7 linked regions of the Homo sapiens genome follow. Changing the gene in region 6 together with the main gene of any one other region gives a genetic interaction. Each region holds a gene or a part of one and is shown on either strand. Other genes may lie near its edges. The genes, in order: LMNB1, AAAS, PHF2, LMNA, OR52W1, ELOF1 and SCAF8.

What was found.
Region 1: changes in ELOF1 (region 6) and LMNB1 together harm fitness more than expected from each alone (negative genetic interaction), as found in Homo sapiens cells (one large-scale study listed by BioGRID).
Region 2: changes in ELOF1 (region 6) and AAAS together harm fitness more than expected from each alone (negative genetic interaction), as found in Homo sapiens cells (one large-scale study listed by BioGRID).
Region 3: changes in ELOF1 (region 6) and PHF2 together harm fitness more than expected from each alone (negative genetic interaction), as found in Homo sapiens cells (one large-scale study listed by BioGRID).
Region 4: changes in ELOF1 (region 6) and LMNA together harm fitness more than expected from each alone (negative genetic interaction), as found in Homo sapiens cells (one large-scale study listed by BioGRID).
Region 5: changes in ELOF1 (region 6) and OR52W1 together harm fitness more than expected from each alone (negative genetic interaction), as found in Homo sapiens cells (one large-scale study listed by BioGRID).
Region 7: changes in ELOF1 (region 6) and SCAF8 together harm fitness more than expected from each alone (negative genetic interaction), as found in Homo sapiens cells (one large-scale study listed by BioGRID).

Annotation. Positions count from the first base shown.
Region 1 is NC_000005.10:126,832,272-126,836,360, forward strand, and holds part of LMNB1 (lamin-B1), read left to right. Parts: intron 1-422; coding exon 423-530; intron 531-3,951; coding exon 3,952-3,993; 3' UTR 3,994-4,089. UniProt on the Homo sapiens protein: Lamins are intermediate filament proteins that assemble into a filamentous meshwork, and which constitute the major components of the nuclear lamina, a fibrous layer on the nucleoplasmic side of the inner nuclear membrane.
Region 2 is NC_000012.12:53,314,937-53,319,025, reverse strand, and holds part of AAAS (aladin), read left to right. Parts: intron 1-3,243; coding exon 3,244-3,299; intron 3,300-3,599; coding exon 3,600-3,691; intron 3,692-3,885; coding exon 3,886-3,932; intron 3,933-4,089. UniProt on the Homo sapiens protein: Plays a role in the normal development of the peripheral and central nervous system.
Region 3 is NC_000009.12:93,659,924-93,664,012, reverse strand, and holds part of PHF2 (lysine-specific demethylase PHF2), read right to left. Parts: intron 3,822-4,089; coding exon 3,453-3,821; intron 1,107-3,452; coding exon 987-1,106; intron 497-986; coding exon 378-496; intron 1-377. UniProt on the Homo sapiens protein: Lysine demethylase that demethylates both histones and non-histone proteins. Enzymatically inactive by itself, and becomes active following phosphorylation by PKA: forms a complex with ARID5B and mediates demethylation of methylated ARID5B.
Region 4 is NC_000001.11:156,135,211-156,138,710, forward strand, and holds part of LMNA (lamin), read left to right. Parts: coding exon 1-102; intron 103-650; coding exon of another isoform or gene 651-690; coding exon 691-911; intron 912-1,003; coding exon 1,004-1,226; intron 1,227-1,710; coding exon 1,711-1,818; intron 1,819-1,902; coding exon 1,903-2,022; intron 2,023-2,443; coding exon 2,444-2,533; coding exon of another isoform or gene 2,534-2,554; exon of another isoform or gene 2,555-2,656; intron 2,657-3,277; coding exon 3,278-3,500.
Region 5 is NC_000011.10:6,197,690-6,200,960, forward strand, and holds OR52W1 (olfactory receptor 52W1), read left to right. Parts: upstream 1-1,534; coding exon 1,535-2,497; downstream 2,498-3,271. UniProt on the Homo sapiens protein: Odorant receptor.
Region 6 is NC_000019.10:11,556,085-11,560,705, reverse strand, and holds the start of ELOF1 (transcription elongation factor 1 homolog), read left to right. Parts: upstream 1-1,475; 5' UTR 1,476-1,515; intron 1,516-4,621. UniProt on the Homo sapiens protein: Factor involved in transcription-coupled nucleotide excision repair (TC-NER), a mechanism that rapidly removes RNA polymerase II-blocking lesions from the transcribed strand of active genes.
Region 7 is NC_000006.12:154,799,227-154,803,315, forward strand, and holds part of SCAF8 (SR-related and CTD-associated factor 8), read left to right. Parts: intron 1-2,744; coding exon 2,745-2,921; intron 2,922-4,089. UniProt on the Homo sapiens protein: Anti-terminator protein required to prevent early mRNA termination during transcription. Together with SCAF4, acts by suppressing the use of early, alternative poly(A) sites, thereby preventing the accumulation of non-functional truncated proteins.

The sequences.
Region 1 (4,089 bases), on a different chromosome or scaffold from region 6:
AAAAGGGATGAATAATAGTAATAATAATAAACAGAAATGCTGTCTCTTTTTTTTTTCTTTTTTGAGACAGTCTTGCTGTGACACTGGAGTGCAGTGGCGTGATCTCGGCTCACTGCAACCTCAATGCAAGCCATTCTTCTGCCTCAGCCTCCTGAGTAGCTGGGATTACAGGCACGTGCCATCATGGCCAGCTAATTTTTGTATTTTTAGTAGAGACGGGGTTTCACCATGTTGGTCAGGCTGGTCTCTAACTCCTGACCTCGGGTGATCTGCCTGCCTTGGCCTCCCAAAGTGCTGGGATTACAGGTGTGAGCCACTGCGCCTGGCAAGAAATGCTGTCTCTTAAGCAAAGAAAAGGTCCCTCTCCCCCGCATTTGGTGATTTTAAGTGTGTTTTTTAACTTAAACTACTATTGTTTTTAGGAGGTTGCTCAAAGAAGTACAGTCTTTAAAACAACCATACCTGAAGAAGAGGAGGAGGAGGAAGAAGCAGCTGGAGTGGTTGTTGAGGAAGAACTTTTCCACCAGCAGGTATTACTTTATTTATTTAATATATTTATTTCAAATTTTATTCACAGAATTACATGAAGACCAAGAGTGTGGTTGGGTTTTTCCCCTATCAGTTGATGAACCAGCGCAGTTATCTACCAAGTGGGGTTTGTACTCCCCAAAGGGATATTCAAGGTGATACTTTAGGGTACTGGAAGAATATGTTGGCACTTTTATTTTTATTTTTTCTCATTGTACCAAGTTTCAGTTTTGTCCTTTGTTTTCTAATGTGCATTATGTGTTACAGTAAAACATGTCTATGGATTGGATGTTTACTCCAAACTTGTTTACTCTGTAGGGTCCTATGATTAAAAGGTTTAGATCACTAATTTAGAGCAAGAATCTGCATATAAACTTTAAAAAAACAAAGTAATATTCAACTTCAGTGTGAAACAAAATTCTTGCTGTATTAAGTTCCTAATCATTATCTAATTGAAGATAGATTTTGGCTGATGGTTGGGCTTTTGAGAGCCCTTGAAATAAAGAAACTCCAAATTTGGTTTTAATTATAATTAAATTGGAATTATTAATAACTAATGAGCCTTCAGTTTATATTCTCAAGCTGTTTGAGTCCGATCATTAATCAAAGTGTCTACCCTTATCCTGATAAGACTTTGTTTCCATGGCTCCAGATTTTTAGTCTTAAGTCTGCTTTGCTTCATTAGCCCTAGTCCTGGTCTAAATAAACACTGTCTCATATATTTAACCCCCAGGGTTGAGAACCACTTGAGGTGGGTTGCATGAAGTAGCATGAATTTTTTACCTGGATGCCTTCTCATACATTTTGGAGGAATATTTTAAAACACATATGTTACACTTAACTTACAAGAAACAAGCACAAGTTCCATTTTCTGTGCTTCAATGGGAACCATCGTAATTACTAGAAGTAAAATAATTATGTAAGAGATAACTCAAGGCACCAGACAAGAGGGTCAGCATGAGTTATATAGCATGTCAGATGCTAGAGGAGGTACTCCAGGCCAGCAGAGTAGTTGAGAAGAACTCTGTGAGGTGATGCTTGTCCACTAATTTGAAGGATGGGTGATTATTTGGTTATTGGAGAGAAGGCAGATGATGGTGCTCTGAGGATGTTGGAATTCACCATTGCTTCACTAACAGACCACCCCAAAGCTTAGTGGCTTAAAACAGTGATTTCTTACTTCCCATAATTCTGTGGTTTGACTGGGCTCAGCTGGGCAGTGTTTCTGTTCCACATGCTGCAGACTGAACTCAATCGAGCAGGCTGTGTTCAGCTCAGAGGTTGGCCTCGGCTGGAATATCTTTTAGGTCTCTTTCTGTGTGGATTTCTATGATTTAAGAGTTTAGTCAAAGCTTTATAGCATGGCAATTGTCTAACAGAGTAAGTGGAGGGTACAGGTTTCTTTCTTTTTTCTTTTTTTTTTTTGAGATAGAGTCTTGCTGTGTCGCCAGGCTGGAGCGCAGTGGCGCAATCTCAGCTCACCGCAACCTCCACCTCCCAGGTTCAAGAGATACCCCTGCCTCAGTCTCCCAAGTAGCTGGGATTACAGGCATGCGCCACCACGCCTGGCTAATTTTTTATATTGTAGTAGAGATGGAGTTTCACCATGTTGGCCACGACAATCTCAATCTCAAGAGAGTACCAGGTTTCTTAAAGGGCCCTTTGTAACATTCTCTTAGTCAAAGTCATGAGGCCAGTCCAGATTCAAAGTGGGGGTAAATAGTCTCCACCTGTTGGTGGGAGGAATGGCAAAGAATTCATGGTGATCTTTAACTCACTACAGAGGATGTGTAAAGAATGTGGCCGGGCACGGTGGCTTACGCCTGTAATCCCAGCAGTTTGGGAGGCAGGCAGATCACAAGGTCAGGAGATCGAGACCATCCTGGCTAACACGGTGAAACCCCGTCTCTACTAAAAATACAAAAAATTAGCCGGGCGTGGTGGCGGGAGCCTGTAGTCCCAGCTACTCGGGAGGCTGAGGCAGGAGAATGGCGTGAACCCGGGAGGCGGAGCTTGCAGTGAGCTGAGATGGCGCCACTGCACTCCAGCTTGGGTGACAGAGTGAGACTCTGCCTCATAAAAAAAGACTTAATGCACCAACTATATCCGCTCATCCAGTTATTTTGTAGGGTTCATGTGAGAGTTAAATGAAGTTGAAAGATTGGAATTAAACTGACATAGTCTGGAATGCTTAGGGATGTAGCTTCTGTACAATTTGGAACAAAGGAGAAGTTAAGACTGCATTTTAAAATATCACTGGCCAAGCTGAATCAGAGGGACTAACTCTAGAGAGGAGATTCCAGAGGCAGTGAGGGAATATATAATGGAAATTTATTAAGGCTTAGTGACTAAACTTGAGGGTGAGAGAAGAAAAAAAATAAAGATGTATGAGGTTTTTAGCTTTTGTGATCACAGAAACTAATGATACCAAGGTTCATAAGAGGGAAGATGGAAGGGCAGAACAGGCGTTTGAACTTCATATTTGAGGATGAATCCAATCGCCTTTTGAATTGATTAGAAATATTTTGGTGACCTTCAAAAAACCAGTTTTAGTTCAATCAGTGGTGAGTCACAAGTCATATTGTGAGGTTATATGAAATTAATGAGTGATAAAGAAATGGGTAGAGGAGCCATGTTGACTTCACCTTGGAGGACAAATCCACTGCAGATGGCTTGGGATGTGTAAGTTCAGGATCTAGCAAGCTGTAGTCTCCGATGTGGTTGTTAAAAGCTGATCCACTGATCTCCTATTTCCTAAGTTATCAAAAGAGGTTATTGAACAATGGTTTTCAAATTGAGCTGCACATTAGAATTACTTTAAAATTATATATAGATAGCTACCCTTTCCCAGTAAAATGAGAAATTCTTATTTGATTGATCAAGGGACCTAGATCAGAATTTGTTTTAAACTCCTCAGGATCTGAATGTGTAGCCAGAGTTGACAATTACTGTTCTGGAATTTGTTGGGGGGTATTCTAGAAAGAAGTCCATAAAAGAAGGTTAGAGGCCAGATACGGTGGCTCACGCCTGTAATCCCAGCACTTTGGGAGGCCAAGGGCAGGTGGATCACTTGAGGCCAGGAGTTCAAGACCAGCCTGGCTAACGTGGTGGTGATGCACACCTGTAGTCGCAGCTGCTCGGGAGGCTGAGGCATGAGAATCGCTTGAACCCAGGAGGTAGAGGTTGCAGTGAGCCAAGATTGCACCACTGCACTCCAGCCTGGGCAACAGAGTGAGACTCTATCTCAAACAAACAAAGAAAAAGAAAAAAAGAAAAGGTTAGAAAAGATGAGAGATGATAAAGGGTCCATTTGAGGTTAGGTAATATGGTTTGGTATCCCTGTAGTTAAAAGTTTTTGTCTTATTTTAGAATACTGTGATCTATTTCTTTAGTATTAATTTTTCCTTCTGTTTTCCTCATCAGGGAACCCCAAGAGCATCCAATAGAAGCTGTGCAATTATGTAAAATTTTCAACTGTCTTCCTCAAAATAAAGAAGTATGGTAATCTTTACCTGTATACAGTGCAGAGCCTTCTCAGAAGCACAGAATATTTTTATATTT
Region 2 (4,089 bases), on a different chromosome or scaffold from region 6:
CCAACACATGTGCTGTCAAGCTTTGATCTTTGGTACTTCAGTACAGTTTAATGGGCATGCCTGTGTGTGTGAAGTTGAATATCAGTTTGTTGAAAAGCCATTCATTCCCAGGCTCCTTGTCTCCTACTTCTGTGGCTGCTGCTTCTCAGGGTTTTTGGTGGCTCCTCTTCCTGATGTCCCTTAAATGTTGGTGTTCTTGGGGCTAGATTTCCAGTTGATGCATCAGACCTGGTGTTCACGTGTTTGCCAAATTATCCTGCTTGAATATTTCGCAGACTTCATATATTCAGCATGCTCAAATCCAGTCTCTTTATTTCTCTCTCCAAATCTGCTTCTCTGGATGGTTCACTTTAAGGAATGATCATATTACTCATTCAGGAAAAAGTGGTTTGAGTATAGGTTCTGGGGTAGATAGATGGTTGAATCCTGACTGCTACTTTCTACTTAGATTACCTTGTTCATATTAATTAGCCTCTTCACACCTTTGTTCTCTCATCTAAAAATGCAGTGATAGTCTGGGCGCGGAAGCTCATGCCTGTAATCCCAGCACTTTGGGAGGCCAAGGCGGGTGTATCACTTGAGGTCAGGAGTTCGAGACCAGCCTGGCCAATGTGGTGAAACTCCGTGTGTAATCCTAATTACTCAGGAGGCTGAGGTGCAAGAATTGCTTGCACCCAGGAGGTAGAGGTTGCAGTGAGCCGAGTTCACACCACTGCACTCCAGCCTGGGTGACAGAGTGAGACTCCGTCTTAACACACACACACACACACACACACACACGCACACACACACACACACACACTGAAACCCCATCTCTACAAAAAATTTAAAAATTAGCTGGGCATGATGGTGTGCACCCGTAGTCTCAGCTCCTCGGGAGGCCGAGGCAAGAATACCTGAGCTCAGGAGATTGAGGCTGCAGCGAGCCGTGATGGTGATATTGCACTCCAGCCTGGGTCACAGAGCAAGACCCTGTCTCAATAAAATAAAAATAAATGCAGTGATAACAATACCTATCTTGTAGGATTGTCATAATGGCTTGATTAGTTAATGTGAGGCACCTAGTCCAGAGCTGGCACATTGTAAGCATATTAGCTGATGTAATTATTACCTAGGTGTTTCTGTTGTATTGCTCTTTCCTTTACTAATGTCTGATTAGTCTTCACATCTTGTTTATGCTAATTCCTAAATCTCTCAAATCTGTCTCTTTTTCTTCATCCCCACCAGTTCAGGCCACTTTCACCTTTTTCCTAGGTTCCTGAAGTAGATTCTTTTTTTTTTTTTGAGACAGAGTCTCACTTTGTCACCCAGGCTGGAGTGCAGTGGCGTGATCTCAGCTCGCTGCAACCTCCGCCTCCTGGGTTCAAGCAATTCTTCTGCCTCAGCCTCTGAGTAGCTGGGACTACAGGTGCACACCACCACGCCTGGTTAATTTTTGTTTTGTTTTATTTTTTTGGTTTTTTTTTTTTGAGACGGAGTCTCGCTCTGTTGCCCAGGCTGGAGTGCAGTGGCACGATCTCGGCTCACTGCAAGCTTCGCCTCCCGAGTTCACTCCATTCTCGTGCCTCAGCCTCCCGAGTAGCTGGGACTACAGGCGCCCACCACCACACCTGGCTAATTTTTTGTATTTTTAGTAGAGATGGGGTTTCACCGTGTTAGCCAGGATGGTCTTGATCTCTTGACCTTGTGATCCGCCCGCCTCAGCCTCCCAAAGTGCTGGGATTACAGGTGTGAGCCACCGCACCTGGCCAATTTTTGTATTTTTAATAGAGATGAGGTTTCACCATCTTGACCAGGCTGGTCTCGAACTCCTGACCTCGTGATCCACCTGCCTTGGCCTCCCAGCGTGCTGGGATTACAGGTGTGAGCCACCGCACCCGGCCCTGAAGTAGATTCTTAACTGATTTATTTTTCTCTATTATTATTATTATTTTTTGAGACAGCATCTTGCTCTGTTGCCCAGTGTGGAGTGCAGTGGCGCAAACATGGAACACGGCTCACTGCATTGTCAGCCCCCAGGGCTCAAGTGATGCTCCTTCCTCAGCCTCCCAAGTAGCTGGGACTACAGGCATGTGCCACCACACCTGCCTAAGTTTTGTATTTTTTTTTGTAGAGACAGCATTTCCCTATGTTGCCTAGGCTGGTCTCAAGCTCTTGAGCTCAGGCGATCCACCTGCCTTGGCCTCCCAAAGTGCTAGGGTTGAGCCACTGCACCTGGACTTTTTCTATTTTTTCTCTTCTTTTTTTTTTTTTTTTTTTTTGTCTGAGATGGAGTCTTGCTCTGTTGCCCAGGCTGGAGTGTGGTGGCACGATGTTGGCTCACTGCAATCGCCACCTCCCGGGTTCAGGCGATTCTCCTGCCTCAGCCTATGGAGTAGCTGGGATTATAGGCATGGACCACCACACCTGGCTAATTTTCATATTTTTCAACATGTTTCACCATGTTGGCCAGGATGGTCTTGATCTCCTGACCTCGTGATCCGCCCACCTTGGCCTCCCAAAGTGCTGTGATTACAGGTGTGAGCCACCGCGCCTGGCCTTTTCTATTCTTTTTTTTTTTTCTTCTTTTTTGAGGCAGAGTCTCACTCTGTCGCCCAGGCTGGAGTGCAGTGGCACAATCTCGGCTTACTGCAGCCTCCGCTTCCTGGGTTCAAGTGATTCTCCTGCCCTGCCTCAGCCTCCTGAGTAGCTGGGACTACAGGTACGCACCACCACACCTGGCTAATTTCTGCATTTTTAGTAGAGACGGGGTTTTACCATGTTGGCCAGGATGGTCTCAGTTTCCTGACCTCGTGATCCACCCACCTCAGCCTCCCAAAGTGCTGGGATTATAGGCGTGAGCCACCACAGCCAGCCTGGCCTTTTCTATTCTTATCACTCTCTAATCTGCAGCCAGACTGCTCTTTCTAAAATGCTGCTGTGTGATCTGTTTATTCTTCTCCTTAGAACCCTTCCATGGCTTTCCATTCATTGTCTTAGAGCAAGTCCCAACTCCTTAACCTGCTCACAAAGCCCCAAAAGTCCTCTGAGCCTTGGTTGTCTCATCCGTAAATGGGTAGAATCTCGTTCAGATTTGTGAGATATGTAAATGAAAGGACAGCCCGTAGAGTGCCTGGTACATAGTTGGCACTCATTAAATGTGAGTGCCCATATTTTTAATACATGTATATTGAATGAATGAAACTGGTAGAGAGGGACAGAGGGGATCAGAGTAAGCTGACCCACATTTTCCTCCCTTATCAGGCGTGATGTGGGCCTTTTTGGGGTGCTAAATGAAATTGCAAACTCAGAAGAAGAGGGTAAGTATTTTTCCCTCCAGCCTTCCCTAGTTTTGTGGTTATCTCCTCTCCATATTCTTGAACTCACCCCCGACACCTGTTGGCTCAGCCTCTTTTAGCCCTATTTTTCCTGTCCTCTCCTCTACCTACCCAAATAACCCAGAGTGGGTGTCCAGAGTGGGTGTCCAGAGTGTGGTGTTGAGAGCACTTACTGGGCAGAAGGACCTGGGGAGTGCCTGTCCTTCCTTGTCTTTCACCTAGAAGGTACCTGGTAAGAGGCCTGTGAATGGTTTAATCAGAGCTGCTTCCTCAACCCTACAGTGTTTGAGTGGGTGAAGACGGCATCCGGCTGGGCCCTGGCACTCTGTCGATGGGCCTCTTCCCTCCATGGGTCCCTGTTCCCCCATCTGTCTGTAAGTTTGGCTTCCTCCCCAGCCCTCTGCATTTGCTGTGTCCCCATCCTACTCTGCCCTCATTCCTATCCTTGCAGGTCAGGGTTGGGTGTGATGACTTCAGAGGGTAGGAGTGGTCCAGCTCCCCTGTTGGAATATTGAGGAGATGGACTCCTTTTGCCCCAGTGTGTCCTGTGTCTATCTTGTTCTTACAGCTCAGGAGCGAAGATCTGATCGCTGAATTTGCCCAAGTCACAAATTGGTGAGTGCACAAGCCCTGGAGCTTTGTGGAAAGGAAGTCCTGAACCTCAAAACTCCCTTTGGGGAGAAGGCAAAGACTCCTACTCCTTTTCTGATTGCTCACCATATTCTCATTCCTCCTGTTCCCCCAAAAAAGAATACAAGAAAAAGTAGGAAAA
Region 3 (4,089 bases), on a different chromosome or scaffold from region 6:
CCCACCCAGGCATGTCTGCTTCCTCACACCCACACTACAGGTGGAGCGTGGTGGGAGGCAGGGATGTGGCTCTGCTGGTGTCTAGGCCTGATGAAGACGTGCCAGGAACAGGGCTGCAATCAGTGAGGTCAGCAGCTCAGAGGGAGAGGAGTCCCCAGAGGTGTGTCAGCCAAAGGCTGTGTGTTTATGGGGTACGTGATGTGCAGTGTGTATGGTTGTGTGTGATGCAGTGTGTGGTGTGTGTGAGATGCAGAGTGCATGCATAGTGTGTGTGTAATGTGTGTGTGGTATAAGGCAGTGGGTGTGATGCAGTATGTATGGTGTGTGTGATGTCGGTTATGCGCGAGGTCACCCCTCCCATCCAGGCACTCACATACCCGAGGAGTTTCTTGTTGGAGAAAGAAAAAGAGAACTTATTGTCTTTGTTTCCAGCTAGAGGCGACTTCTCTAGCTTCTGCTCCTCTTCCATCTTCAGTAAGGAGTCAGGTTTGCTGTTCTGAAAAGCAAGACCAGGGCCGTCCCTGAGCCCCACACAGAAGTGGGGGGTCAGGACCCCAATTAGTGTCAGTGAGAAGAGGCAGCTACTGGGAACACGACTAAGGAAAGTCACCCATAGCTCTGGTGGCCACCCGGGCCACTGCGGGGTGCTCAGGGGCCTGCACCCCATGGACTCAGTGCCTCGATGTTGCCTGACCCCCATGGAGTGGGAATGAAAACCAGTGTGTGGACCGTGAAGGGAAACACTGTCAACATACAGGGTGTACATTCAACCTCTTGCATCCCAACCAACTCAGAGGAAGATGTAGTCCATGGGTGGTCACACACACCTCAGACCCACGTAAGCACACCCCACAGCACTACCTACTCAGGACAAGCAGACACATGTCTGCACATTCCTTCACACACACAGGGCCTCACAGATTCACCTCTGCTCACACTCACCAAGCTGACACACACACGTGTGCATGCATATGTGCACTTCTCACCTTGTACTTCCACTTGGCCTCTGACTTGCTCTTGGTTTGCTCTCGAATTTCCAGCCTCTCCACATCATTCTGCATGTGAACCACATCTTTGTTGGGCACACTCAGGACACTCTTTGTGGCCTAGAAAAAAGGGCTGCTGTGACCCAGAGGCAGACATAGAGGGCTGGTGGAACTCTCTTGAGCCACAGATTCCCTGTCTTCTTCTGGCCCATGTGCTTGCAGCTCAAGCCTCCATCCATCTACCCATCCACGCATCCATTCACCCACCCATCGATGTACCCATTCACCCACCCATCCATCCATCCATTTATTCATTCATTCGTTCATCCATCCATCCGTTCATTCATCTGCCAACCCATTCATCCATTCATTCATCCCGTTCATTCATCCACCAATCCATCCATCCACTCACCCATTCGTTCATTCATCCATCCATGCACCATGCATTTGTTCATCCATCCATCCATCCATCCATCCATCCATCCATCCATCCGCCCACCCATCCATCCATTCGTTCATCCCATTCATCCACCCACCCATTCATCCATCCACTCATCCATTTATTTATCCATCTACCCATCCATTTATCCATCCATCCATTTTTTCATCTATCCTTCCATCCATCCATCCACTCATCCATTTATCCATCTCCCCATCCACTCATCCATTCATCCATCCATCCATTTGTTCATTCATTAATTCATCCACCCATCCACTCACTCAATCATCCACCCATTCATCCATCTACCCATCCATTCATTTATCCATCGATCAGTCCATTCACCCACCTATCCACCCATCCATTTGTTCATCTATCCATCCATGTATCTGCTCACCCATTCATTCATCCATCCATCTATTCATTCCTCTGTCTATCCATCCATCCATCCATCCATTCATTCATCCATTTATTCATCCACCCACCCATTTGTTCATCCATCCATTCATCCACCCAACCATCCATCCACTCATCCATCCACTCACCATTTGTTGATTCATTCATCATCTACCCATCCATCCATTCATTTATCCACCCATCCATTTGTTTGTTCATCCACCTTTCCATCCATTCATCTATCCATTTATTCATCCATCCATCCATTTTTTCATTCATCTATCCATCTACCCATCCATTCCATCCATCCATCCATTTGCTCATCCATCCATCCATTTATTCATCAATCCATCCATCCACCCAACCATCCAACCATTCTTTCATCTATCCACCCATGCATCCATTCATCTATCCATCTACCCATCCATCTTATGCACTCATCCATCCATCTACCCACTCATCCATCCATCCCTTCATTATTCCATCCATCCATCCATTCATCCATTCATCTACCCATTCATTCATTATTCCATTCATCTACCCACCCATTCATTTATTCGTCCTTCCATCCATCCATCCACCCATTCACCCATCCATCCATTTATTCATCCATCCATCCACCCATCCATCAATTCGTTCATGTAGCCATCTATTCATTCATCTATTCATCCATTCGTTAATCCATTCAACCATCCATCTATCCAGCCATTCACTGATTCATTCATTCATCCATCCGTCTGTTCATCCATTCATCCATCCATTCATCCACCTATTCATTCATTCACCCATTCATCCAGCCATTTAGCCATCCATTCATTTGCTCATGCATTCATTCATGCTTGCCCTGAGAAAGAGAACACAAAAGCGTCCCACTACACCCCTGTGATGCCGGCCCTGAAGTTTCCTGGCCCCCAGGAAGCAGATAACGACCTCCTCCTGGCAGAAACTCACACTCAATGGTGCTTCAGGGGTTCATGGTCCCTGAAGCCCAGACCTAAGATCCTCTAGTCAGAGTGGGTCTTCAGGGCTGGGCCCATCTCTTCACTGTCCACAGGGGCTCAGACTATCAGGGCCACCCTGCTCTTGTCCTCACCCCTGAACCCCCTCCCCTCCAATGGCATTCTCCCTGTTGTTTCTGCACAGACACCTCATCTACCTTCAGGTTTCAACCTCAATGTCTTGGCCCCAGGGAGGACCCAGGGCTTCTTTGTCCCCTGGCAACTGCTCATCTGGCTAGGAAACCTAAACTAGACATCCCCTTCTGGAAAACCACCATGCCTCCTCCACCAGGTGGCCCTCTTGGGTGCCACCTCTGCCACAGCACACACACATTGTGTTGCCTTCCTCAGTGAGGGACCCTCTTCAGGCCCACTGCTCTGTGGCTTGTTGGGCAAAGCCTGTCCACTCTGGGGGGTCTGGGCCTGGATGCTGCAGGACTGGGTCAGGACCAGGCAAGGAAGTGCATCTTCTGGGCATACAAGCCCACAGCAAGAGCCCAGACCCCCACATCTTCTCAGGGGCCCCTGGGGAACAAGGACAATGGGCCCTAGCTATCTCCATGGGACTGGCCCACAAGAGATGCTGCAGCACCTCTGGTGATAAGGTGGGGAGTCAGGGTGAGGGGGTCCCACCTTGCCCTTCTTGGGCGGCTCCATCTTGGTCAGTGCCTCCTTGGTGTGGGCTTCGAGCAGGTCCAGGTTGGGGATGGTGGGTGAGGCTGACTCCCGGGACTTCTTCCCTTTCTTCTTGCCTCCATCTTTGAGCTTCAGCGTTTTGGGGGGCCTTGGGGGCTTAGGGGGCTTCGGGGGCTTGGGGATTTTGGATGGCTTGGGCATCTTCACAGTTTTGGGAGTCTTTTTTTTGGACACTTTCTCCAGGAGGGATTGAGGCGGGGTGGCCTCAATGGGAGACGGGGGCTCCTCCTTCTCCCGGTCCCCGTCACACACCTCATCTGACGAGGCGACAGTATTCACTTCCGGTCGGACGGCTTTGGAGGCATTCTGGGATACAGAAAGGAGAGGGTCACATGCTGCTTCTGCCAAACTGTGGCCCAAGACGGTCCACACACCAGGATGCTGGAGACACTCAGTGCCAGGCTGGCGGGGAACTATCAGCCCAGAAAGGCTCAGCTACCCCACACCATCATGTGACACACTCACACCCAACCCATGCTATTGTGTGACACACTCACACCTGCGACATGCCATGAGTCACTTGCTCTCCCCAAGGCTCTTCTGTCCTACCCCAGCACAGCGGCTGAGGGCTCAT
Region 4 (3,500 bases), on a different chromosome or scaffold from region 6:
GAGAGGAACAGCAACCTGGTGGGGGCTGCCCACGAGGAGCTGCAGCAGTCGCGCATCCGCATCGACAGCCTCTCTGCCCAGCTCAGCCAGCTCCAGAAGCAGGTGATACCCCACCTCACCCCTCTCTCCAGGGGCCTAGAGTCTGGGCCGGATGCAGGCTGGAAGCCCAGGGTTGGGGGTGGGGGTGGGGGTGGGAGGTTCCTGAGGAGGAGAGGGATGAAAAGTGTCCCCACAACCACAGAGAAGGGTCGCAGGATGTGGAGTCAGATGGCCTGTGTGCTGTTTCTGTACACTCTTACCTCACCTTCACTTCTCAGGGCTTTGGTTTTCCCATTCGAAAATGGAGGCTGTTCTTAATCTCCCTAACTCAGAGTTGCCACAGGACTCTGCAATGTGAGGTGTTAAAAGCATCAGTATTTTTCTAGTTGGCTGTGCTATTTGTGACAGGAGAAAAAGTCTAGCCTCAGAACGAGAGGTTTCAGTTAGACAAGGGGAAGGACTTCCCAGTTGCCAGCCAAGACTATGTTTAGAGCTTGTGATGTTCAGAGCTGGCTCTGATGAGGGCTCTGGGGAAGCTCTGATTGCAGATCCTGGAGAGAGTAGCCAGGTGTCTCCTACACCGACCCACGTCCCTCCTTCCCCATACTTAGGGCCCTTGGGAGCTCACCAAACCCTCCCACCCCCCTTCAGCTGGCAGCCAAGGAGGCGAAGCTTCGAGACCTGGAGGACTCACTGGCCCGTGAGCGGGACACCAGCCGGCGGCTGCTGGCGGAAAAGGAGCGGGAGATGGCCGAGATGCGGGCAAGGATGCAGCAGCAGCTGGACGAGTACCAGGAGCTTCTGGACATCAAGCTGGCCCTGGACATGGAGATCCACGCCTACCGCAAGCTCTTGGAGGGCGAGGAGGAGAGGTGGGCTGGGGAGACGTCGGGGAGGTGCTGGCAGTGTCCTCTGGCCGGCAACTGGCCTTGACTAGACCCCCACTTGGTCTCCCTCTCCCCAGGCTACGCCTGTCCCCCAGCCCTACCTCGCAGCGCAGCCGTGGCCGTGCTTCCTCTCACTCATCCCAGACACAGGGTGGGGGCAGCGTCACCAAAAAGCGCAAACTGGAGTCCACTGAGAGCCGCAGCAGCTTCTCACAGCACGCACGCACTAGCGGGCGCGTGGCCGTGGAGGAGGTGGATGAGGAGGGCAAGTTTGTCCGGCTGCGCAACAAGTCCAATGAGGTAGGCTCCTGCTCAGGGTCTAAGGGGATACAGCTGCATCAGGGAGAGAGTGGCAAGACAGAAGGATGGCATGTGGAGAGAGGAACATCCTTGCCCTCAGAGGGTGGACCAGGGTGAGCCTGTATATCTCCTCCACACTCTGGTTCCAGGCCTGGCTCCTGGACTCTTTGGCTGTGAGACCTTGAGCAGGTTATTTAACCTCTCAGAGCATCAGTTTCCTCATCTGTAAAATGGGGATGAATACTGATCCCTAAGTCTTTGAGTTGTCAGGAAGATGAAAGATAAGGTATCCGTGTGCCTGGTGCTGCGTATGTGTCCACAGATCATGGCTATTATCCCCGGGGGAAGGGCAGTGACAGGGGTGTGTGTAGATGGAAGGAGAGGCCTCAATTGCAGGCAGGCAGAGGGCTGGGCCTTTGAGCAAGATACACCCAAGAGCCTGGGTGAGCCTCCCCGACCTTCCTCTTCCCTATCTTCCCGGCAGGACCAGTCCATGGGCAATTGGCAGATCAAGCGCCAGAATGGAGATGATCCCTTGCTGACTTACCGGTTCCCACCAAAGTTCACCCTGAAGGCTGGGCAGGTGGTGACGGTGAGTGGCAGGGCGCTTGGGACTCTGGGGAGGCCTTGGGTGGCGATGGGAGCGCTGGGGTAAGTGTCCTTTTCTCCTCTCCAGATCTGGGCTGCAGGAGCTGGGGCCACCCACAGCCCCCCTACCGACCTGGTGTGGAAGGCACAGAACACCTGGGGCTGCGGGAACAGCCTGCGTACGGCTCTCATCAACTCCACTGGGGAAGTAAGTAGGCCTGGGCCTGGCTGCTTGCTGGACGAGGCTCCCCCTGATGGCCAACATCGGAGCCAGCTGCCCCCAACCCAAGTTTGCCAATTCAGGGCCCCTTTCTAGAGCTCTCTGTTGCAGGCTCCAGACTTCTCCACCCAGTAGGCAAACCAAAAGATGCTTCCTCAACAGCACAAGGGGTGGAAGTTAGACAGTGAGGATTGTTAAAGGCAGAGCCATACTCCTACCCGGAGAGCTTGACAGTGTCCCTCTGGGGTGGAAATGAGTTCCTTAGCTCCATCACCACAGAGGACAGAGTAAGCAGCAGGCCGGACAAAGGGCAGGCCACAAGAAAAGTTGCAGGTGGTCACTGGGGTAGACATGCTGTACAACCCTTCCCTGGCCCTGACCCTTGGACCTGGTTCCATGTCCCCACCAGGAAGTGGCCATGCGCAAGCTGGTGCGCTCAGTGACTGTGGTTGAGGACGACGAGGATGAGGATGGAGATGACCTGCTCCATCACCACCACGTGAGTGGTAGCCGCCGCTGAGGCCGAGCCTGCACTGGGGCCACCCAGCCAGGCCTGGGGGCAGCCTCTCCCCAGCCTCCCCGTGCCAAAAATCTTTTCATTAAAGAATGTTTTGGAACTTTACTCGCTGGCCTGGCCTTTCTTCTCTCTCCTCCCTATACCTTGAACAGGGAACCCAGGTGTCTGGGTGCCCTACTCTGGTAAGGAAGGGAGTGGGAACTTTCTGATGCCATGGAATATTCCTGTGGGAGCAGTGGACAAGGGTCTGGATTTGTCTTCTGGGAAAGGGAGGGGAGGACAGACGTGGGGCATGCCCGCCCTGCCTCTCTCCCCCATTCTTGTTGCATGCATATCCTCTCATTTCCCTCATTTTTCCTGCAAGAATGTTCTCTCTCATTCCTGACCGCCCCTCCACTCCAATTAATAGTGCATGCCTGCTGCCCTACAAGCTTGCTCCCGTTCTCTCTTCTTTTCCTCTTAAGCTCAGAGTAGCTAGAACAGAGTCAGAGTCACTGCTCTGGTTCTCTGTCCCCAAGTCTTCCTGAGCCTTCTCCCCTTTTATGTCTTCCCTCTCCTCCTCCGGGCCCCTAGCCTCCCAAACCCCCATTGCCCGCTGGCTCCTTGGGCACAGAACCACACCTTCCTGCCTGGCGGCTGGGAGCCTGCAGGAGCCTGGAGCCTGGTTGGGCCTGAGTGGTCAGTCCCAGACTCGCCGTCCCGCCTGAGCCTTGTCTCCCTTCCCAGGGCTCCCACTGCAGCAGCTCGGGGGACCCCGCTGAGTACAACCTGCGCTCGCGCACCGTGCTGTGCGGGACCTGCGGGCAGCCTGCCGACAAGGCATCTGCCAGCGGCTCAGGAGCCCAGGTGGGCGGACCCATCTCCTCTGGCTCTTCTGCCTCCAGTGTCACGGTCACTCGCAGCTACCGCAGTGTGGGGGGCAGTGGGGGTGGCAGCTTCGGGGACAATC
Region 5 (3,271 bases), on a different chromosome or scaffold from region 6:
TATATTTATTCATAGCTAACTACATGCCAGACATTGTGGTAAGCAGTAGAGACACTGTAGCTAATAAAAAGCAATATCTGCAACTCTTTTTGTCTCGTGGGGAATTGAGAGACAAGAAATTACAACAGAGTGGGCTAGATGCTATTAAAGAATAAACCAAGGAATTTTCTCCCGGACTTCAGTGAGCCAGCAAAGACCTCCCTGAGAAAGTGTTCCTTGCCCAGATCTTTCCACCTGATAGTCTCTTTCCTGGCTTGCCCCCATCTCTGCCTCCTTACTCTACTTCCTGAGTCACCAGCCCATCAGCACTGAGCAAAGAGATACAAAACAGAGTTAATGTGGCACAGGTGGGAGGGAGAAAGGCCCTGAGGGAAGCAGGTAGAACAGCCACATAAAGAGCCCCACAGGCACTGATTAAAGCGAAGAGAAGCTGCCAACACACAGTGCTCGAGATCTTTCCCAGTCAAGCCTTCTGCTGGTGATTTCTTCCTCATTCATTTATCCATTCAACATGTATTAAGCTTCTTAGGTGGGCTGGATCCCACCTAAGTCAATCTACTTGTCCTGCCTCCTCCAATGTCAGAGATGCTTCTTCCTCAGATGGCTGCTACTCTGAGTTGAGTGCCATTTTCTCCCTCTATGTCACCTCCACTCGCTCTGGCATGCCAGGAATGAGACTCTAGTGGGACCCACTTTTGTACCGTGAAGAAGGAAAGGAAACGGAGAAGAAAAGTCCCGTTTCGTACTGCCATCTCTCTCTCTGTTGCTTCCCAGCCCCAACTTCAACTCTCCAGCTGGTGTTCAGCATCAAGTTCAGAACGTAAGCACCCTGCACCCCAAAAACCCAGCAAGTTTTCCCTTGCCACACCAAGCTCCCAGATTCACTCCAGATTCCATCTGCCTCCCACTACGGTTTCTCCCTTTCTTTATACTCTGCCTCCTCTCTTCCTGGATGGTTGGTGCTGAGAATGGGCAATTGCTCAGAGCTGGGCAAACCTTAATATCACTGTACCCACCAGGCCTATACAGCTGAAGAAGCTGAGGTCCAGAGATCTTGCCCAAGGATACACAGGCAGGGACAGGACAGCCGGAAGCCTGATTCCCCACCCTGCCCCCAGCACTGGCTTTCTCCTCATATAGAGACTGAGACTGACTCTATTTGGACCCTGAGGAAGAAAAGTATTCATCTCCACTCCACCCTCTGCTGACATCCAATTAGAAGGCTCTCTCAGGCTATCTATACCAACCACTGCAGCAGGCAGCCTCTTCCTCACTACCCCTTCCTCCCACTACAATACATATAGACTTTTAGGAGCAAAGGATTCTCCTATCTTAGCTAGAATTGCGACCTTAATTATCCATCCAAACCCCCCTAACCAAAAGTTATAAACCTGTGATCCTCCCAGCCCTGCACTACTCCTACACGTATGCCATGGATGGGTTTGTGCCACTGTGAGACCCCCAAAATCTCTCCCCTTATCTTCCCTGTCAGGAGTCATGCCCCCATGAGCCCTCAAGTTGTGCCCACCACAGAATGGCAGAAACTCTACAACTCAATTCCACCTTCCTACACCCAAACTTCTTCATACTGACTGGCTTTCCAGGGCTAGGAAGTGCCCAGACTTGGCTGACACTGGTCTTTGGGCCCATTTATCTGCTGGCCCTGCTGGGCAATGGAGCACTGCCGGCAGTGGTGTGGATAGACTCCACACTGCACCAGCCCATGTTTCTACTGTTGGCCATCCTGGCAGCCACAGACCTGGGCTTAGCCACATCTATAGCCCCAGGGTTGCTGGCTGTGCTGTGGCTTGGGCCCCGATCTGTGCCATATGCTGTGTGCCTGGTCCAGATGTTCTTTGTACATGCACTGACTGCCATGGAATCAGGTGTGCTTTTGGCCATGGCCTGTGATCGTGCTGCGGCAATAGGGCGTCCACTGCACTACCCTGTCCTGGTCACCAAAGCCTGTGTGGGTTATGCAGCCTTGGCCCTGGCACTGAAAGCTGTGGCTATTGTTGTACCTTTCCCACTGCTGGTGGCAAAGTTTGAGCACTTCCAAGCCAAGACCATAGGCCATACCTATTGTGCACACATGGCAGTGGTAGAACTGGTGGTGGGTAACACACAGGCCACCAACTTATATGGTCTGGCACTTTCACTGGCCATCTCAGGTATGGATATTCTGGGTATCACTGGCTCCTATGGACTCATTGCCCATGCTGTGCTGCAGCTACCTACCCGGGAGGCCCATGCCAAGGCCTTTGGTACATGTAGTTCTCACATCTGTGTCATTCTGGCCTTCTACATACCTGGTCTCTTCTCCTACCTCACACACCGCTTTGGTCATCACACTGTCCCAAAGCCTGTGCACATCCTTCTCTCCAACATCTACTTGCTGCTGCCACCTGCCCTCAACCCCCTCATCTATGGGGCCCGCACCAAGCAGATCAGAGACCGACTCCTGGAAACCTTCACATTCAGAAAAAGCCCGTTGTAATGTCCAGTGGTAACAATGGAGCCTAAGAGTGGAGGTGAGGGGACAATCGGAGGGGAGTCTGGGGGTGTGGATCATGTTATTTTCATCCCACTGCATATGACTGTTATCATCATTTAACAGGTACTTGCTGTGGAGTCCCTATGTGCAACACTGGCATCTGTAGACTTTGACTTAAACATGTATTCTGCTTGGGAGGAGGCAGGAGGTAGAGGTCAGGGGGCTACACTACCATGCAGGAAAAATTAGTGAAGGACCATAATAAACAAGATCTAACAACTCCCTTTCCTGCTCCCCACCTCCATTATTTCAACCTAAGTCTGCCCACGTTTCCACACAAAAGCTCCTCTATAGATCCCAAACTTGAGGGAAGTGCTTGGCACTGCCGCAGAGGGTGGCGCTGTCCCTGGAGTCAAGTGCTTGGGCACCCGTCTGAAATCACAGCCCTCTCTACTCCTGGAGCCAGATTCTGTTTTCAGACTGCCCTCAGGAAACGAGTTCTACAGGCTCATCTCCTGCCTTCCGATAAACTAAATAATGTGCCCTGTGGTACCAATTTGGCCACTTCAAATTCAAAGAATCCTCTTTTGGTCTCATGTGTAATTACTATTCTTCCTTCCCCCAACTCCCACCAAAGCCCCCAAAATTAACAGCTGTAACTTCTTCCCCTGTGACTGCAGCTGCAGAGGTCAGGGGTCCACTGAAAGAAATGTTGATATCCCAGAAAATCACTGCAGCCACATCATCTGATTGCCTGAGGCTGAATTACTATGGTTT
Region 6 (4,621 bases):
TCCCTCTACAGACAGCCCCTGACTTGATTATGATAGGTTTATCGGGATGTAACCCCATCGTAAATCAAAGAGCATCTGTATTCGAAATACATTTCATTACAAATTATCTTCCTGAACACTCTAATGCAACAGCTCTTATCAAGGTCCGCAGGGACCAGACCCTTGCCAAACTCAACTGTCAATTCTCTTTCCTCATCTTCTTCAACTCAGGGACACGTGACACAGCTAACCCCTCTCTCTCTCCATCTTGAAATATCTTTTTCAGGCCAGGTGTGGTGGCTCATGCCTGTAATCCCAACAATTTGAGAGGCCGAGGTGGATGGATCACTTGAGGTCAGGAGTTCGAGACCAGCCTGACCAACATGGTGAAACCCCATCTCTACTAAAAATACAAAAATTAGCCAGGCATGGTAGTGCGCACCTGTAATCACAGCTACTTAAGAGGCTGAGGCAGGAGGATCGCTTGAACCCGGGAGGCTAAGGTTGCAGTGAGCCCATATGGCGTCACTGCACTCCAGCCTGGGCGACGGAGCGAAACCCTGTCTCAGAAAAAAACAAAACCAAAAATAAAAACCAATAAAAGTCCTTGGCCGGGCGCGGTGGCTCACGCCTGTAATCCCAGCACTTTGGGAGACCGAGGCGGGTGGATCGCGCCTGTAATCCCAGCACTTTGGGAGGCCGAGGCGGGTGGATCACGAGGTCAGGAGTTCAAGACCAGCCTGGCCAAGATGGTGAGACCCCATCCCTACTCAAAAAAAAAAAAAAAAAAAAAACTACAAAAATTAGCCGGGCGCGGTGACCGGCGCCTGTAATCCCAGCTACTCGGGAGGCTGAGGTAGGAGAATCACTTGAACCTGGGAGGCGGAGGTTGCAGTGGGCCGAAATCGAGCCACTGCACTCCAGCCTGGGCGACAAAGTGAGACTCCGTCTCAAAAAAATAAAATAAAATAAAACAAAAATAAAAAATAAAAATCCTTAACACGGCCCACGAGGCTCCATGGAATCTGGCCCCAGCCTGTCCACTCAACCTCATCTACTACAATCTGGGCACTCAAAATGTGGTCTGCGGATCAGCAGCATGGAAGTCACCTGGGAGCGAGTTAGAACAGCAGCCTCTCAGGCCTCCCTCTTCATCTGCTGGATCAGAACTTGAACTTTTTAGTTTGAGTAGAGCGTCTTCCATGCTTACAAGCTTCCCCTTCACCCTGATTCAGCCATAAGGTTATTTCATATTCCTCACTTGCCGCTCCTGGAAACTGACCAGAAGTACTGGCATCGCGCGTAGGTACAGGCAAATACGCACCGGCTCTTGCGCAGGCGCACTGCGTCTCCGTCGGAGCGCTGCTATTTGAGTACGCGTGCGCTCAGAGGAGCGGCGAAGGAGGCAGGGCCTATTTGCTGGGCTGTCCGGGATGGGGGTGGCCGGGACCTGAAAGTAGGAGAGGGGTTTCCGCTTCCGGCAGGAGTCGGAAGTCACTATCTCCCGGGTGAACGGAGCTTTCGCAGCTGGAGAAGGTGAGTGCTGGTGCGGCTCGTGCGAGTGGGCGTTGGGGGTGGGCAGGACTGGAAGTTCCTCTACTCCGTGCGTTTACGGGGTCCTGGAGGAGGCTCCTGGGACCTCGAGCTTGGGGGAAAGCCGGTCGGGGAGACTGACTCCCCCCGACCCCATCCTTCCAAGCGCGACTACCGGGACGCCTGGCTCCTCCCGGCGGCCGTCGGGAGGCGATGCCGAAGCTTTAGTGAGTCTGGAGGAACAGCCAACCCCCCACCTCTTGGGTACCAGCAGATTCGGGGGATGACTCCTCTGCCATCCCCTTTTGGCGCTCTTGGACTTAACGTTGTCACAGGACAGGCTGAGGCCTCTGCATTCCTTGTGCAAGCCAGACCCCATTCATGGGATGGGGAGACTGTAGTCCCTGGGCAAAATGAGCTTCTGGGGCTCATCCGTAGATTTTGTTTGGACTTTTTTTTTTTTTTTTGAGAGTGAGTCTTGCTGTGTCGCCGAGGCTGGAGTGCAGTGGCGCGATCATAGCTCATTGCAGCCTCGACCTCCTGGGCGCAAGCTTCCCACTTCAGCTTGCCGAGTAGCTGGGACTACAGACTCAAGGCTAATTTTTGTAATTTTGTAGAGATGAAGGGTCTCACTCTGTTTCCCAGGCTGGTCTGGAACTCCTGGCTTCAAGCGATCTTCCCACCTGGGCCTCCCAAAGTGATGAGATTACGGGCGTGACGTCCCAAAGTGATAGAGTTACAAGCAAACTGATTGAGTGATTTATTCAGTAATGGTTATTGCTGGGCACGGTGGCTCATGCTTGTAACGCCAGCACTTTGGGAGGCCGAGGCGGGAGTATCTCTTGAGCCCAGGAGTTCCAGACCAGGCTGGGCAACATGGTGGGTCCCTGTCTCTACAAAAAATACAAAAATTAGCTGGGCGTGGTGCCGCGGCTAATTTATATTTCAGAGGTAGAGGGGCAGGGGGAGGATCGCATAAGGAATGTGTGAGGGAAAAAGACATTGAGGATGAATCCAAGGTTTCTGATTTGATTATCCGGAAAGATGGAATTGCTGTTAGCTGAGATGAGGAAGACTGGAAGAGCAGGTTGCAATGTCAGGGGCTTGGTTTTGGACATGATATGTTTAATCTTAGGTGGAAGTTAGACATCAGGTGGAGGTGTGGCTGAGGCAGATAGATCAGAGTCTGCAGTTCAGACTCAAGGCTGGAGAAGCAGGTGGCCTCAGTGTAGAGTAGGCATGAAGCCCTAAGACTGGGTGAAATCTTCATGTGGTGAGTATAGCCAGAAAGGAGAGGATCCAACAATTAAACTCATGGGCTTTTTGCTCTGTTGCCCAGGCTGGAGTGCCTCGGCTCACTGCAACCTCCGCCTCCCAGGTTCAAGTGATTCTCCTGCCTCAGCCTCCCGAGTAGCTGGGATTACAGGCGTGCACCACCATGCCTGGCTAATTTTTGTATTTTTAGTAGAGATGGGGTTTCACCATGTTGGTCAGGCTGGTCTCGAACTCCTGACCTCGTGATCTGCCCACCTCGGCCTCCCAAAGTGCTGGGATTACAGGCGTGAACCACTGCACTCAGCCTTTTTTTTTTTTTTTTTTAGATGAAGTTTTGCTCTGTTGCCCAGGCTGGAGTGCGGTGGCACAATCTCAGCTCACTGAAACCTCCGACTCCCAGGTTCAAGCGATTCTCCTGCCTCAGCCTCTCTATTAGCTGGGATTACAGGCATGTGCCACCACGCCCAGCTAATTTTTGTATTTTTAGTAGAAATGGGGTTTCACCATGTTGGCCAGGCTGGTCTCCAACTCCTAACCTCAAGTGATCTGCCCACCTTGGCCTCCCAAAGTGCTGGGATTATAAACGTGAGCCACAGCGCCTGGCCCAAACTCACGTGCTCTCTTCATTGGAGCAAGTTGGCAGAGAGGCAGGAGCATAGGAGACTAGCAGGAGCCACCAGTGAGGCAGAGGACAGGGAGCACATGGCATCCTGAGAGCCACATGTGCTCTCAGGGGAGGAAGGACCTCTGGAATGGGAGGACTGCCATTGGGATTTGCAGTATGGAGCCACCAGTAACCTAAGTTTGGAGGCAAGGGGTGCAGAGAGATGGGTGGGAATGCAGATGGCTGTACACTAAAACAGCCTGCAGAGAAAAGGATCATAGCTGGAAGAGGATGAAGAGTTTTTTTTTCCCCCTTTTTAAATGAGGAGAGAGGTAATAACAAGTGTGTGAGAGTGATCCAGTGGAGCTGGAAAATTTGATGTTGCTCAAAGAAAAGGGGATGGGAGCCAGGGCAGAATGAACAAATTGTTTTTGCAGGAACTTACTTCCATAGTAAAGGAGGCATGCCGAAGCTGGGCATGGTGGTGCACACCTGTTGTCCCAGCTACTGAGCAGGCTGAGGCCAGAGGATTGAGGCTTTAGCAAGCTGTGATCATGCCACTGCACTCCAGCCTGGGCAACAGAGCAAGACCTCATCTCTTAGATAAATAAAGAGGGTGGGTGAATGGCTGAATGAGTTGGTCCTAGGAGCTGTCTTTGGATTGCTTCTATTTACTCAGTGAACTGGAAGCATCACAGTTAAGAGTTGGGGGTGTTGGCTGGGCGTGGTGGCTCACGCCTGTAATCCCAGCACTTTGGGAGGCCGAGACAGGCGGATCACGAGGTCAGGAGATCGAGACCATCCTGGCTAACACGGTGAAACCCCATCTCTACTAAAAATACAAAAAATTAGCCACGCGTGGTAGTGCATGCCTGTACTCCCAGCTACTCGGGAGGCTGAGGCAGGAGAATCATTTGAAGCCGGGAGGTGGAGGTTGCAGTGGGTCGAGATCATGCCACTGCACTCCAGCCTGGGCGGCAGAGCAAGACTCCATCTCAAAAAAAAAAGAAAGAGTTGGGGGTATTACATAGGAAGTGATCAGCAGATAATGAATGAAACTCCACTGTTTATTCTGGAAGACACTGGCAGGCTGCTGACCTCCCCGTCACAGTGGAACGATGCTAGAACCAGCAGTCGTGTGTGTGTGTGTTGGAGGAGGCGCCATAGGAGGCTCAGGGATGGCAAACACAGTGCCCTGAGCACCGTGCCTCGCAGGGGAGTTGGGCTCAG
Region 7 (4,089 bases), on a different chromosome or scaffold from region 6:
GTCAGCCTCCCAAAGTGCTGGAATTACAGGCATGAGCCACCGTGCCTGGCCAATTTTTTATTTTTATATAGAGACAGGATGTCACTATGTTGCCCAGGCTGGTCTCAGACTCCTGGCCTCAAGCAGTCCTTTCACCTGCGCCTCCCAAGTCAATGGAATTACAGGCACAAGCCATCGTGCCTGCACTAAAATCCCAAGTTTCAGCAGTCACTTCATTGGTCCTTGTATGTTCTCAGTTTGACCTATTGTTCCCTTCCCAACATTTTCTATCACCAGTTCATAGACTTCTCTAACTAATGATAAGACTTGCTTATGTTGCCCACCCCCAACCCTGGTTTTATATTATCCTTTGCTTTGCTTTCTCACCTCTTTCTCCTGTAACTTGTTCCATCCTTTTTGTTGTTTCTTAAATAAACTACCTATAATCCTGCCCCAAGATCTCTGCTTTTGAAGTTTTTTATACTGAAAACCCACTTCCCTCATATATTCATATGGTTTCATCTCTTGTCTTTGTTTAAATGTCACTTTAATAAGGCCTTCAGTGACTGCTATTTATTTATTTATTTATTTATTTAGAGACAGGGTCTTGCTCTGTCACCCAGGCTGGAGTGTAATTGGCGCAATCTCGGCTCATTGCAACCTTGGCCTCCCGGGTTCAAGCAATTCTCTTGCCTCAGCCTCCTGAGTAGCTGGGATTACAGGCTTCTGCTACCACACCCAGCTAATTTTTGTATTTTTTAGTAGAGACAAGGTTTCACCTTGTTGGCCAGGCTGGTCTCAAACTCCTGACTTTAAGTGATCCGCCCGCCTCGGCCTTCCAAAGTACTGGGATTATAGACATGAGCCACCGCACCTGGCCGTGACTGCTATTTAAAACTGTAAACTCTTACCTGTCATTGTTTACACTCCCGTTCTCTCTCGCCTCTGCTTACTTCCTTCCTTAGCACTTACTACCTTCTGTTATGTTATATAATTACTTGGTTTTTTTTCTACCTCTTCCCACTGGAATGTATGCTAAACTAGGGCAAGAATTTTTTGTGGTTGTTGACAGCTGCCTGTCCAATGTCTAGGTTGTAGATGGTGTTCAATATGTTTTTGTGGAATGAATGAATGATGTACAAAAGCATTACAGTGTTGGAGATACAAAGGATATTGTAGAGTTGAGTTGTTTGAAGGAAAAGATAGTCTGTGTAAGCTATTAATGACAAAGTTAAATGGCAGACTTAAGTGTGACCTGGGCTGTGAAAACTATAAATGGTGGGCTCAGAAATAAAAGGTTTCATTTGCTAAGCAATGGGGAATCACCAGGGACTTTTTAATGTTGAAGTCACATGATCTTAACAGTACTTTACATGGATTAGAGAGAGGAGAAGTCTAGAGACAGAATATCTTTCTTTTGGTAGTAGTGGTTTTGGAAAGGAGGGTAATGATTATGAAAAATAGTAAGGTTGTATACTTTCTGAAAATACAATAGAAAACATGGGGCCATTCTAGACTTAAAAATATTTTAAAAAACCGATGTGTACTCTTAGGTTGAATCTATTTTCTACATTTTTGAGACAGTTGGGAAACTGAATATTAGCTGTATATTAGGTGAAATTATAGAATTAGTAATTTTATTTTGTGGTAATATTTTGGAAACAATTCATAAAGCAAGTGTTCTTATTTTAAAAGATGCCTATTAAAATAAATATTTTTGACAGAAGAAACTTTGAAAGGGATAGTACAAACAGAGTCAGTAAGACAGTAATTGATAGACTGCGAAGTCAGAGTAGAGGAAGAAAATTGGATGCTCCAGTGGTTTTTTACCTGGGTGACCAAAAGAATAACAGTGCCATGGGAAAAATGGAGATGTCAAAAGGAGCAGTTAAAAAGTGTAAAGGGGAAATACGGTGTTTCTATCATTTTAATAGTTTTATAGAAAATGTTTAGTTGATAGTGAAGTGACTCTAGTTTGTTTCCTAGTGTTACTGTTTTAAGTAGGCATGAAATTACTTTACTGTCATCTTACATAGTTTTTGTGTCCTTTCATCCTAGAAGTTGAACTTCAAGAGTACAGTTGTCTTGGTTATCAGTAGCTTTGCTGTCTTTATTTTTCTCTTTTAAACTAATAATTTTTGGATTTAACTCAGGCTTATAACCAGATTGATTATCATTTATTTCTGGAATGTATATAGGGTTTTCTTATTTATAGAATCTCTTAAAGATCTCACTGTTGTGTCTGTTTTTTAACAGGGGTGGGTACATGGTGGGAACAAGAGTTGCCTTCAACTCTAGATGACACTATTATTAATAACTAGTTGCCAGACTCTACTCTGAGAAACAGATTTCTTAATGACTCTCCAACTTTCAGGAAGTACGTGCTCAGATGGTAATTCTGAATAACAGCAAAAGCTGCTGCTATTTTCAGTACTCGTCCTTTTACTGAGTTTAAAGAGTTAATTGAACAAGGTAGAGAAATTTAGTGAAAAAGGTGTCAGCTTGTGATGAGCGCTTTATCTGGTTGTCACAGATCACTTTATTTTGTTTAAAGTTCGCTGACTTTCCAGAAGTAAGACAAACTTATTAAGGACTGTGTTATATAAGGTACACAGAAAAACTTCAAAAAATTAACTTATTAATAGTGTGTATTTTTTTCAAAGAGAGTGTGGAATGATTAATTTTACTGACTAAAAGTTTTAGGTGGCCACTCTTACAGAAAAAACCCAACACCTGTTTTGTAATATATATTTTTTTCTCTCCAGCTTCAACAATTAATACAAACCTTACAGATACAACAACAGAAGCCCCAGCCTTCCATTCTGCAGGCCCTAGATGCTGGTCTTGTTGTTCAGTTGCAAGCTCTTACGGCACAACTTACAGCTGCAGCTGCAGCTGCCAACACTCTTACTCCCTTAGAACAGGGAGTCTCCTTTAACAAGGTAGAAATTAAAATATCGGATCAAGTCTATATGAATTATTAAATATTATATACTATCATGGATTTTAATTCTATAAATAAATTTTATTGTAGACTTTCAGTATCTCCTGTACACTGTATAAGACAGTCTGAATTTTACAAAAGGTTCAAACTTCTGAAAAAAATTAAGTAATTAAAAAAATTTTTCCTAGGCCAGGCACAGTGGCTCACACCTATAATCCCCAGCACTTTGGGGGAGCGCAAGGCAGGCAGATCACTTAAGGCCAGGAGTTTGAGACCAGCCTGGCAAACATGGTGAAACCCCATCTCTATTAAAAATACAAAAATTAGCCAGATGATGCGTGCCTGTAATCCCAGCTACTGGGGAGGCTGAGGAAGGAGAATTGCTTGTACCTGGGAGGTAGAGGTTGCAGTGAGCCAAGATTGAGCAACTGTTCTCCAGCCTGGGTGACAGAGAAAGACTCTTGACTCAAAAAAAAAAAATTTTTTTTGAAACATTTTTGAAACATTTAAAATATTTTCATTTGACTAAAAATAACTAGTCAGTAAAATCTTGTATTCACCACTGAGGCAAGTGATTACTTTCTGAGCTTGTCTGATTTCTTTCATGGGTGCCACATTTTACTGTGATGCTCTGGGTTCTGTAATTTGGACCTGCAAAAATTAAAATTCTTTAATCAATATGTAAAATGTTTAAAGGAAACTTCTCTACAACTAGTCACTATACTGTAACTATAATAAGTTGATGCCTAAATTATTAATAATTAAAGTGTTTCTAAAACTTAAAATCTTTCATGTACAATTTAGTGTGTGATATTCTTAGTATGCTTATTAATTATGGGAATATCATACTACTTGGAAGTGGTGTTCATATTTTTAAAATTTGTACTTTTTATAGGAAAGTAGATACTGATTTATTGGATTATTACTTAGACTGTTTTGGCCAGCAGCTTCTAAGTCTAATATAGTCTAACACTAAATAGCTAGACCACATAAAAAGCCTTTAAATTGAGCATTCAGAAGAATAACAGCATTCTAAGATGAGAACCATATTAGGAATAGATCCATTGAATATGGCCCTAGATGTTTTATCAAGCTTATTACCATGGAAAAACCACCTAATTATTTTAATTCTTAGTCTTCTGTAAAATTTGAGTATTAGTGTTTAT